Linked DNA regions of Homo sapiens. The protein of the gene in region 1 purifies or fractionates together with the protein of each later gene. This does not show direct contact. Each region holds a gene or a part of one and is shown on either strand. Other genes may lie near its edges.

The links.
Region 2: the proteins of PFKFB2 (region 1) and RAB3IP purify together in Homo sapiens (affinity purification with mass spectrometry, with the first as the bait; one large-scale study listed by BioGRID). This does not show direct contact.
Region 3: the proteins of PFKFB2 (region 1) and SARNP purify together in Homo sapiens (affinity purification with mass spectrometry; one large-scale study listed by BioGRID and IntAct). This does not show direct contact.

What each region holds. Positions count from the first base shown.
Region 1 is NC_000001.11:207,066,729-207,070,381, forward strand, and holds part of PFKFB2 (6-phosphofructo-2-kinase/fructose-2,6-bisphosphatase 2), read left to right. Parts: intron 1-770; coding exon 771-978; intron 979-1,434; coding exon 1,435-1,581; intron 1,582-2,695; coding exon 2,696-2,800; intron 2,801-3,551; coding exon 3,552-3,653. UniProt on the Homo sapiens protein: Synthesis and degradation of fructose 2,6-bisphosphate.
Region 2 is NC_000012.12:69,745,341-69,748,993, reverse strand, and holds part of RAB3IP (rab-3A-interacting protein isoform alpha 1), read right to left. Parts: intron 1-3,653. UniProt on the Homo sapiens protein: Guanine nucleotide exchange factor (GEF) which may activate RAB8A and RAB8B. Promotes the exchange of GDP to GTP, converting inactive GDP-bound Rab proteins into their active GTP-bound form.
Region 3 is NC_000012.12:55,797,079-55,800,731, forward strand, and holds part of SARNP (SAP domain-containing ribonucleoprotein), read right to left. Parts: intron 3,552-3,653; coding exon 3,484-3,551; intron 1-3,483. UniProt on the Homo sapiens protein: Binds both single-stranded and double-stranded DNA with higher affinity for the single-stranded form. Specifically binds to scaffold/matrix attachment region DNA. Also binds single-stranded RNA. Enhances RNA unwinding activity of DDX39A.

The DNA.
Region 1 (3,653 bases):
TGCAACCTCCCCCTTCCTGGGTTCAAGCAATTCTCCTGCCTCAGCCTCCTGAGTAGCTGGGATTACAGGCACCCGCCACCACGCCCGGCTAATTTTTTTATTTTTAGTAGAGATGGGGATTCACCATGTTGGCCAGGCTGTTCTCAAACTCCTGATCTCCTGATCTACCCACCTTGGCCTCCCAAAGTGCTAGGATTACAGGCATGAGCTACCGCATCCAGCCACACTTATGACTTTTATAAAGAGAACAATCTCATGTTGGCCTCAAAGCAAGCAATGTCTGAAAGTGTCTTTGAGAGAAGCATGATTAGGTAGATGCAGGGAGTATATAGACATTTCTGTCTGTGCTTCTGCTGCCTCTTCCCTTCCCCTCGTTGCTCGTCGTGCCATATTCTGGCCAGGTCTTAACTGCCTCAAAAGGGGCCTATTCTTCTCACCAAATTTTGGGCTTAGCAAAATCTTCAGGTCACCTAGTCTAGCCCCTGATGGGAAGGCTGAATTCTGTTTATCCTATTTATCTACATTACTTGTCACACTACAGGCACTGAGGAAATGGTACAAACTTACTAGAAGTTCAGGAAATTGTACTTCATCTTGGTTTTAAGGAGTAATTAATCTCCTACCATTTGGTTCCATAAACGTGGGTGTGACAGAGGAGGGGAGGAAGAGCAGCTGTGAGCCTGCAAGTCCCTGTAGAAATCCTTTTCCCTCTGATTCTTATTCTCAGATCTTCTTACCTAGGGAATTTTTTTTTTCCTTTCCTGTCCCAGGGATCTTTCTTTCATCAAGGTGATAAACGTGGGCCAGCGATTTTTAGTCAACAGAGTCCAGGACTACATCCAGAGCAAGATAGTCTACTACCTCATGAATATCCACGTCCAGCCTCGCACCATTTACCTTTGCCGGCATGGAGAAAGCGAGTTCAATCTCTTGGGGAAGATTGGGGGTGACTCTGGCCTCTCGGTGCGGGGAAAGCAGGTGAGTAATTATTCAGCACACTGGATTTTCTAGGCTTAGAGTTAGAAGGGCATGACTGAGGTCATATATTTTATCTCCTTACTTAAATCCCATTTGGACGTAGGCTGTGGTTTCATAGTCAGGCAAGTGCTCAAGGTGTGTTCTTGCTCACTGCGTCTAGCTCTGTGTTAAAGAGTAGATAACTTTGACCCATTTCTGCTGTGATCATTCAACCATCAGATATTCATTGGGCACAACTTGTGTACTTAGCAATGTACAGGGTGCTCCAGTTAAAGTTCATTTCCTTTTGGGTTTATATTAACTATGTAGCACCTTATGGATTTTGACCATGGTTATGCACGTTGTCCCTTACAGACCAAGTTAGCAGGCTTTGTGTATGTGTGTGTTGAGTGTGTGTGTGTGTGTGTGTGTCTGTGTGTTTTCTTTTTACCCTTAATTTTCATTTTTAAACCCCAGTTTGCCCAAGCTCTAAGGAAATTTCTGGAGGAACAGGAAATAACAGACCTCAAAGTGTGGACAAGCCAGTTGAAGAGGACCATACAGACTGCTGAATCTCTCGGGGTGCCCTATGAGCAGTGGAAGATTCTGAATGAGATTGATGCTGTGAGTAGGAAGCTCTGAAGGCCCAGAAAAGCCAACAAGAGTTCAGGCAGGAACTCTCAGAAGTCACTATTTAGACAGTTTTATCTAGGAAACTACAACCAACAAGTAAAAACTCTGAGGAAGCTGACTCTATGGCCAGCCCGGGGGATCAGGGAGGACAATTGTACCCCTAATCAGGGGTTTCCTGCCTGATTCAGTACCTGTGCCAATCATGGGACCCAAACCAATTTTTGAGCCAGCCTTTCTGGCACCTGGGGAAAGTAGGGCTAACAAGGACTCATTTTGTTCCTTTGTATATTTGCCTCCTGGGAAAAATAAATAGCTAACAACCCACTTCTTTGCTTTCTGCTTAGATCATTTGGTCAGCTATTCAGGAAAAGTTTTTCCCAAAATTTCTCTTGGCTTTCTCTCTTCTTGAGTACAAAAGTAGACATTTCTTTCTTTTTTTTTTTTTGTGACACGGAGTCTCGCTCTGTGGCCCAGGCTGGAGTGCAGTGGCGTGATCCTGGCTCACTGCAACCTCTGCCTCCTGGGTTCAAGCAATTCTCTCCCTCAGCCTCCCGAGTAGCTGGGATTATAGGCACCTGCCACCACGCCTGGCTAATTTTTGTAGTTTTAGGGGAGATGGGGTTTCACCATCTTGGCCAGGCTGGTCTTGAACTCCTGACCTTGTGATCCACCCGCCTTGGCCACCCAAAGTGTTGGGATTACAGGCATGAGCCACCGTGCCCGGCCGACATTTCTTTTTCTTTCCTTCCTTCTACCCTTTTATTTTTCATGCAAGGTCTCCAGTCCCTTCAGTTTCCCTCCTTCTCTGCTTCCTGTTCCTTTTAGCCTCTTGACTTTCTTGACCTGTAAGTTCCCCCCAGTAGTAGGAGAATGTGGTAGCTTGAGCTAGAGAAGTTGCCTCTTTCCGGCAGTGGTCCTCACCCGGTGAGTCACAGACACTCTGTGACACTCTGGTCACAGGCAGCTGCAATACATGAAAGGACCCAGCACAGTGCCTGGCACGTACTAAGAAACTAGCATTCTTCAATGTCATCTTCCTTATTTGGGATGGGGCTGGTGTGGTACAGTCTATCTCTTCAAGCCAGCTTCAAGTGGCTTTTTGCAGGGTGTGTGTGAAGAGATGACCTATGCAGAGATTGAGAAACGGTACCCAGAAGAGTTTGCACTTCGAGATCAAGAGAAGTATCTGTATCGATATCCTGGTGGGGAGGTAAGACGCCCCTGTCATGTAAAGTGACTGCCTAGACCCTTGCTGAGTGTTTAACTTTAATTTGGGGGAAGGATTGAATGTGATTTGGAGGGTCTAGGCATCATTTATCTTCCTTCCCTTGGGTCATTTTGGTTTCATTCAGCTTAGACAATCGAATGCCTCATTAATTGTTAAGATTCCCAGGGATAAGGGTGACAAGGCATCCTCTGTTCAGTATGTTTTAGAATCAACACAATCATTTTTACTTCTTTTTTTCCTTGTACTCTCTCAATCCCACCCCCACATAAGTAAGTGGAGTCACCAAGTAAATATATGGGATAGGAATTATTTCCCTGTCATCTTGAGTGTTTTAGGCTATTTCCTTGTCTAAGTGGCTTCCATACTCTAGGGATGTGTGAGGCAAAAGTAAATAAAACTGAATGGCAGAGGTACAGGAAACCCCTAGGAGTCTCTTGTCTCACTGCCTGTATTAATCTGTGGGAAGAAAAAACACACACACACAGGTTGAACTCACACTTCCTCTTCTTAACCTGTAGTTTTCTTGGTCTAAATATTGCTTTTGAAAGATCTGAGTTTTCTCAAGAGATACCAGGGCTGGGGGCAGTTAGCAGGTGATGTAAACTCACTGAGCCTCCAGGAGGAAAGCCAGCTGAGGAAGAAGAAGTGGCCCTTAGTCTCCAAGGTCCAGCCACTGACTTGGCTGCCAGCTTGCACCTGGGCTCCTGCCAGCCTGCCCCATTTCCCTCCACAGTCATACCAGGACCTGGTGCAGCGGCTGGAGCCTGTCATCATGGAGCTGGAACGTCAGGGCAATGTCCTCGTCATCTCCCACCAGGCTGTCATGCGCTGCCTC
Region 2 (3,653 bases), on another chromosome or scaffold:
ATACTGTCTAAATTCAAGTCACTTCTGAAAAGGAGATTATTTTGAGATTAAATTTAATCCCTTTTTCAAGCACATAAAATTTCCATAAAATGTAATTTAGCTGGTAATGAGCTGCCAATCTCACTGGTCTGAAAATCTTTTGCCCTTTAAATACATAGAAGCTTTAAGATTTATTTCACATACGTCTTTATAAGAGTAAAATAAACTACTATTTTTAAGCAGTAGTATCTTTCGCATTAAGCAATGAGTGATTCAAAAAGAACTAATTTCAACTGATTATCCCAATTAGTAAATTAAACTTGTCAAGGATCATGACCAATATGTAAAAAAGATGATCACATTAAATTCTTATGGGTGAATCACCAACACAACTTGGCTGGCCTTATTACTGAGCTCCAGGTAATAAAGCAGACTGCAGACCACAAGAAAAAGTTGATCAAAACAATTTGCTTCTGATCCCTAATATGCATTTCCTGTTAATTTTTCTTTCTCGAAATCAGTACTATCACAGCAAAAACAACAGCCAATCTTTACTGAAGGTTAACTATGTTGTCAGATAGTGGTGCTAAGAATTTCATACATATTAACTCATTTAATAAATGCCTAGAAAGATCCTAATAACTTATGAAATTTACTTTTTCTAATTAAAGTGAATTTTTAAAATGTTTCTTGAAAACAAAAGCCATCCCTAGGACAACTCAAGAAATCAGAATTAATGGGAAAATATTTTCAATGAAACATCTGAAGAACATGAATAAAATGCATATACATATTTTAAATGAAATCTAGCAACTTGATTTATATCAGTAGTCCAAAAGAAAAAATAAAATCCATTTTTCCACAAAAAGCACATTCCCCTAATTTGGACTTACCTTGACAAATGGGAAACATAGAATTTTAATTTTAGAAAAAAAAAAAAAAACTAAAGCTGTGATTTTTATCTTTTTTCATATCAATTTAATATATGTGAAAATTAAATAATTTGAATTCTATGTTTACTAAAATTCCTCAAAGCACTACACTCAGAAAGTAAATCATTTCCAACAAAGGAGGTAATATGGCAACACAGCAGAGTAGAAGCATCAGTACCTGAAGAAGAAAGCTAAGGCTCCTGATCAAGCTCTGAGATCTATCTATGAACCTGGGCAGGTAACTTATCTGAGCCCAAATATCTTCATCTATTTCAGTGTAGAATTGGATCAAATAATCCTGGTAGATAAAGGAATGTACTTGTCTACTAGAAGAAAAGCCAACAGGGTAACTTAACCAGTATTCACTATCTCATGAAATAGCTTGTACTCTGGAATCAGTCTCAAATCTTGGCTTCACCAGTTACTAATAAAGTGACCTGAAGATCTAAGTCTCAATTTCTCATCTAAAAATGGAGATGACAGGTCAGGCACAGTGGTTCTTGTAATCTCAGAACTTTGGAAGGCCAAGACAGGACGGTTGCTTGTGCCCAAGATGTTTAAGCAACAACCAAAAGCAACATAGCGAGACCCCATCTCTACAAAAAATTTAAAAATTAGCAGAGTGTGGTGGCATACGCCTGTGGTCCCAGCTACTCCTGAGCCAGGAAGGTTGAGGCTATAGCGAACTGTGATTGTGCCACTGCACTCCAGCCTGAGCAACAGAGAAAGATCCTCTCTCTCTCTCTCTCTCACACACACACACACACACACACACACACACACACACACGAAAGGGCAAGGGGAGAAAACTGTACCTATCTCCTAAGGTAGTCATGAGAATTAAAGAGCTTAGCACCATATCTGGCACTTACCAATTAAGACTGGCTCTTACTATTATAATCATCTCTAGGACATTTCCTAATACTGGCCAAATATTTTGATCATATTGTATCAGCACAAGCACTATCACTAAGAACAAAAAGCAATGATTGTTGAGTTTGGGTTTAAAAGCTTATTGTTTTGAGTGATTTTCCTCAAAAAAAGTAAACATCTATAAATCCTGTAGTATAATTTTGTTTTACTTGTATTATCACAATAATAGAAATTAAATATTCCAAGACATGTCAAAAGAAAAGGTTTAAGATTATGTAAGCACTATTTTCCTCTTTCAATTTATTCACAGACAGTTGTGGAAGGGGGGCAGGGAGGAAAGTCCAGATGCTTTTTAAATTCCCAAATGACTTCTTAATTTAACATGAATTATGAAAGAAACAGTTTCTGAGATTAAAAATGAGACTGCTACTTCAATAGCATATAATGAATTGAACTGTTATAAATTCCATGAATTAGTTACAAATTCCATCACTTCTTTAAAAACCTTCAACATTTATTATACATATTAAATACATTTATTTCATACATATATGTGATAAATTATATTTATTCTTGTTGGAATGGAAGGATGATTGCCAGCTTCAACACCTCCGGGCAAATCCTGATACTAAGTGCTAAGAATACAGATACAAATGGACCAAAGAGATGGCACACAGCCTCTACGAGCCACGGCATGATTATTCTGAGGGTTGTGGGGAGGGAAGAGGGAAGAGGAGAATGTCTCAAAGAGAAGTAAAATATAAGTCAGATTTTCAGTGCTGAATACAAGTCCAGTAGATGGGCAAGGGGAATAGGATAGGACAGTCAGGGAATAAGGGTCTGGCACTAACAAAACTAACAAAGGAGACAGTAACAGAAAAGCAGGCTGGAGAGGCAGACTGTGACAGACCATTAAAAGCCTTCTTTAAAAGAGAAAATGTTGCTTAAAGTTTATCCTGAAGAGATGGTGAGATCTACATTTTAGAAAGTATAGATGTATTGTAATGTAGTCATTTAAAAATGACTCCCAAGGCAATGAGAACTTCACTGGAGACTAGAGGCTGGTTAAACGATTACTGTCTGATCTAATGCCAAGGTCATGCACTGGGAATGAGGGGATGGAGGCATATATACGTATGGAAAACATTCAGAACAGCTTCATTTATATTTATTCACAAACACACAATTATTCCAGTTAATCTTCAGAGCATTCATTTGAAATGGTTCTTATCCCTACTTTACAGATATATAAAAAAAAGAGGCTGAGAGAGATTAATTTTGTCAAATACACAAAAAGTAACAGAGCTAGTATTCAAACTCTGGTGTGTCTGACTCTAACACCTAACTCCACTACATCTGAGATACACTTAGAAGCTGAAATGGATAGGGAGTAGGGAGATGGGAATAAAGGTTAAAGCACAGCAAAGGATCTCTAAGAAGTGAACAATCCTGGGTGCAGTAAACCACCATGGCACGTGTATACCTATGTAACAAACCTGCATGTTCTGCACATGGTATCCCAGAACTTAAAGTTTAAAAAAAAAGAAGTGAACAATCCAAACAGAATAATAATGTTTAATCTCTGAACCCTTCTCTTACTTTCACAAAGACAAAACTGAAGTTTCTCTAAAGCACTGCTATTGAAATGAGCATTTGCTATTGCTTTGTGTTCTATTATTTTCCCCTATATTATTTTTGTTATCATTTCCTCCTCTGTTTTGTTACTATGCCAGAATTTAATACTTATTCAGCTCCTTACAGGACTTGGAAAAAAAAAAACAGCACATAAATCAAAATAAACAGAAACTTGAATTTACTATAGTACCCATATTCCTGTGTATTTTTTTAAAAAGTGTAGATATTTTATAC
Region 3 (3,653 bases), on another chromosome or scaffold:
AACCAGTCTCATTAAGGTCCCTCATTTAGAGACATGGGCAGCTTTTGTTCCAATATCCTGAACACTTTTCCCATTTGATGCCCTGAAAGGTAGTAATGGTTTAATGACATTTTCAGAGGAAGCAATTCTGGAATAAGAACTTACTCTCTTCCACCCTTTTATTGGAAATCCCTGGACTGAAGACAAGCAATGGGTGCCCCCTGCTGACTATAACGAAGTCCTACGATATGTAACCGCTTTAGCTGGTTGGGGGTTGGGAATCAAACTAGAAACAGGTATATTTTTGGAGAACTTCAGGCCAAACATGAAGAAGGGGATCTCCTTTTAAATAGTCAAGGAATCTAAACTAGCCCTGGCTATTCTGACGTTTAAAGAAATTTCTAAACGCTTCCCATTTCCTTGCCATCCTTCCCTAACCTTGTCTTATAATTTAGGCACAAAAGGCTAAAGTTTAATGTTTTACTTGAAATCCAATGCCATCAAGAAAGTAGTACTCTCCATCAACCCCAGTGTAATGACTTCCTCCCCATTACCATTCTGAAGCACAGTCAATGCAGTGCACATCATGGCAGAAAGGGAACCCCAGACGGGAAGTTTCCTTCCATTCTATTACAATTCCCTTAGGCAACTAAACTCAAGCGCAATAAATAAACATCGAATTCTGGGATGCATGGGAAATTTCCACTCTTCACTGAGAAATTTCTCTCCTACCCAATCACATAAACAACATTCCCTGAAATACAGAGACCCAGAATCTTTTTGTACATACTTCAGTCTAACCACAACTATCCTCTAAAAATCAAAAACGATCACCCCACCCACTTCAATTTCCTTGTTTCAAAATTCATTAATAGAATTAAAGCCCCCTGAACAGAATGCACATTTTAAATATTCTATGAATAATGAACTTCAAACTTTCGAACCTCTATTTTTTAACCCACAGAAGCCAATTATCATGGTATTCACTTGATCTTCTTTCTTGTTCCAGAAATCCCCATAACATTTCTATTTTAAAGCTATCTCACAAAGTCATTTTTTCAAGGCACTATATCTAATTATAAACATCTTATGATGGAAAGATAACTAAATGGCTTTAGAAAGTAGTATTTGATAGGCTGGAAAGTAGTATTTGATAGGCAGGTGATTACTGGCTCACACCTGTAATCCCAGCACTTTGGGAGGCCAAGGCAGGTGGATCGCTTTGAGCTCAAGAGTTTGAGACCAGCCTGGCAAACACGGCGAAACCCCATCTCTACAAAAAATACAAAAAAAGAGCTGGGTGTAGTGGCTCGTGCCTGTAGTTCCAGCTACTCAGGAGGCTGAAGCTGGAGGACTGCTTGAGCCGGGAAACGGAGGTTGCAGTGAGCCAAGATTGTGCCACTGCACTCCAGCCTGGACAACGGAGTGAGTCCCTGTCTCAAAAATAAATAAATAAAGGGATATTTGACAAAAATCTATCAAGATGTTAAATGTACATCCTCTGTGATGCAGCAAATCCACTGCTAGGAATTTACCCTGTGGGTATACTTGTGAGTATAAATAATTAGAAAAGGACATGCAGAACTACATTTTTTTTTAATGAATAATCTAAATGTCCATCAACAGAAGACTGGTGAAATAAATTACTGTTTATCCATAGAATGCAATACTATTAAATGCTAGAAAGAACAAGGTTCTAAGTTGATAACTAGTAAATCTGGGTGATAGGTAGATGAGAGTCTATTACACTAGTCGAACTTTTGTATATACTTGTAATTTCCCATAATAAGCTAAACAAAAAGAGACCACTTCCTAGGATAATTATCCTGACTTTACAGGGTCTACTGAGGATAAAATGACAGTACATGTAAAACATTCAGAACAATGCCTAGCATATAACTCTTAAGAACAATGCCTAGCATATAACTAACACTTACATAAGAAAATGATGATATAAAAAATTTCCAGATGTGAAAAAAAATCAAGTGTGCACAGTGTGTGTATACGTGTATCTATATATACACATACATACATATACACATGTACAGACCCCATATATAAAATCTTCCAAAAGTATGTACTGTTCTAAAAACCTCAGTAAAGTCAGATCTGAGAATGGATACAAAGAGTACTTAATTCTTAATTGATATACTCCACTATGTACTGACTTTTTACTTGTAAATACACTGCCTTTTATAATTAAATGCACTAACACAACTATGAGGAACAAAAATGTTCAAAGTTTAGGACTCAACGGCTCTTAATGTACTATAGTACAAAATGGCCAGACATTTGTGGAAAAAGCCCCAAATTAAAGATGTTTAGGATCACCCTTGTGGAACAGTTTAAACAAATCAAGATCTACTTTCCATTCTAGCACTTTGTCCTCCCATCCTCCACTGTAAATCAGAAAGCAAGAGAGAACAGAGTGCTACTTCAGAAACATAACCTCTACCCAACACCCTCCTCCCTTACAAAACTCCTTTATATAGAGTGTCACACTTTTTTTTTTTTTTTTCCCGAGACAGCTGTGGCTCCCAGGCTGGAGTGCAGTGCCACAGTCTCGGCTCACTGCAACCTCCACCTCCCAGGTTCAAGCAATTCTCCTGCCTCAGCCTCCCAAGTAGCTGGAATTACAGGTGCCCTCCACCACGCCCAACTAATTTTTGTATTTTTAGAAGAGACAGGGTTTCACCATCTTGGCCAGGCTGGTCTTGAACTCCTGACCTCGTAATCCACCCACCTCGGCCTCCCAAAGTGCTGGGATTACAAGTGTGTGCCACCGTGCCTGGCCTCAGTTTTACACTTTTCCAGAAAAGTGCAAAACTCTTATGAACAGTTAACAGAATGGGCCGGGCACGGTGGCTCACACCTGTAATCCCAGCACTTTGGGACGCCAAGGCAGACGGATCATTTGAGGTCAGGAGTTCAAAACCAGCCTGGCCAACATGGTAAAACCCTGTCTCTACTAAAAATACAAAAATCAGTCGGGCAGTAGTGGCACACACCTATAATCCCAGCTACTCGGGAGGCTGAGGCAGGAGAATTGCTTGAGCCTGGGAAGCAGAAGTTACGGTGAGCCAAGATCACGCCACTGCACTCCAGTCTGGGCAACAGAGTGAGATCCTGTCTCAAAAAAAAAAAAGTTAACAGAGTTTACACAGTTTTACACTGCATACAGAATTGTACAGATTCTCTATAGAGTAACAGAATAATCTATTATGGTGACCCTACAAAAGAACAACAAAGGCTAGGAGAATTAAACTATGTCTGGTCTTGAAGTCACCTGGTCCTCATTACCTATTACATAACTCAGAGACAATTTGCTTTACTTCACTGGGACCAAGTACTTTGAAGTAGTCCCTTCTAAAAAACAAAAAAATGACCTAATCAGAAAGGAAAAGGCCAATGGGAACATGTAAGAGGTAAACAAAGTTAAACATTAAATACATTAAGAAAAGAGCTGCCTGCTCTGTACTCAGATTATAAAAAAGGGATAATTACACATCAACAGTTTTTTCAGGGGGTTCTTCCTCTTTGACAGGGAGCTCAATGGGCTTTGTTTCTTCTTCCTAAAACCAAATGAAACAAGGTGGTTAACATAAATCTAAAGAATAAATATCTATCAAAAGAAGAACATCAGAACTCCAAAATAAACCAGTCTCTCAGAACCT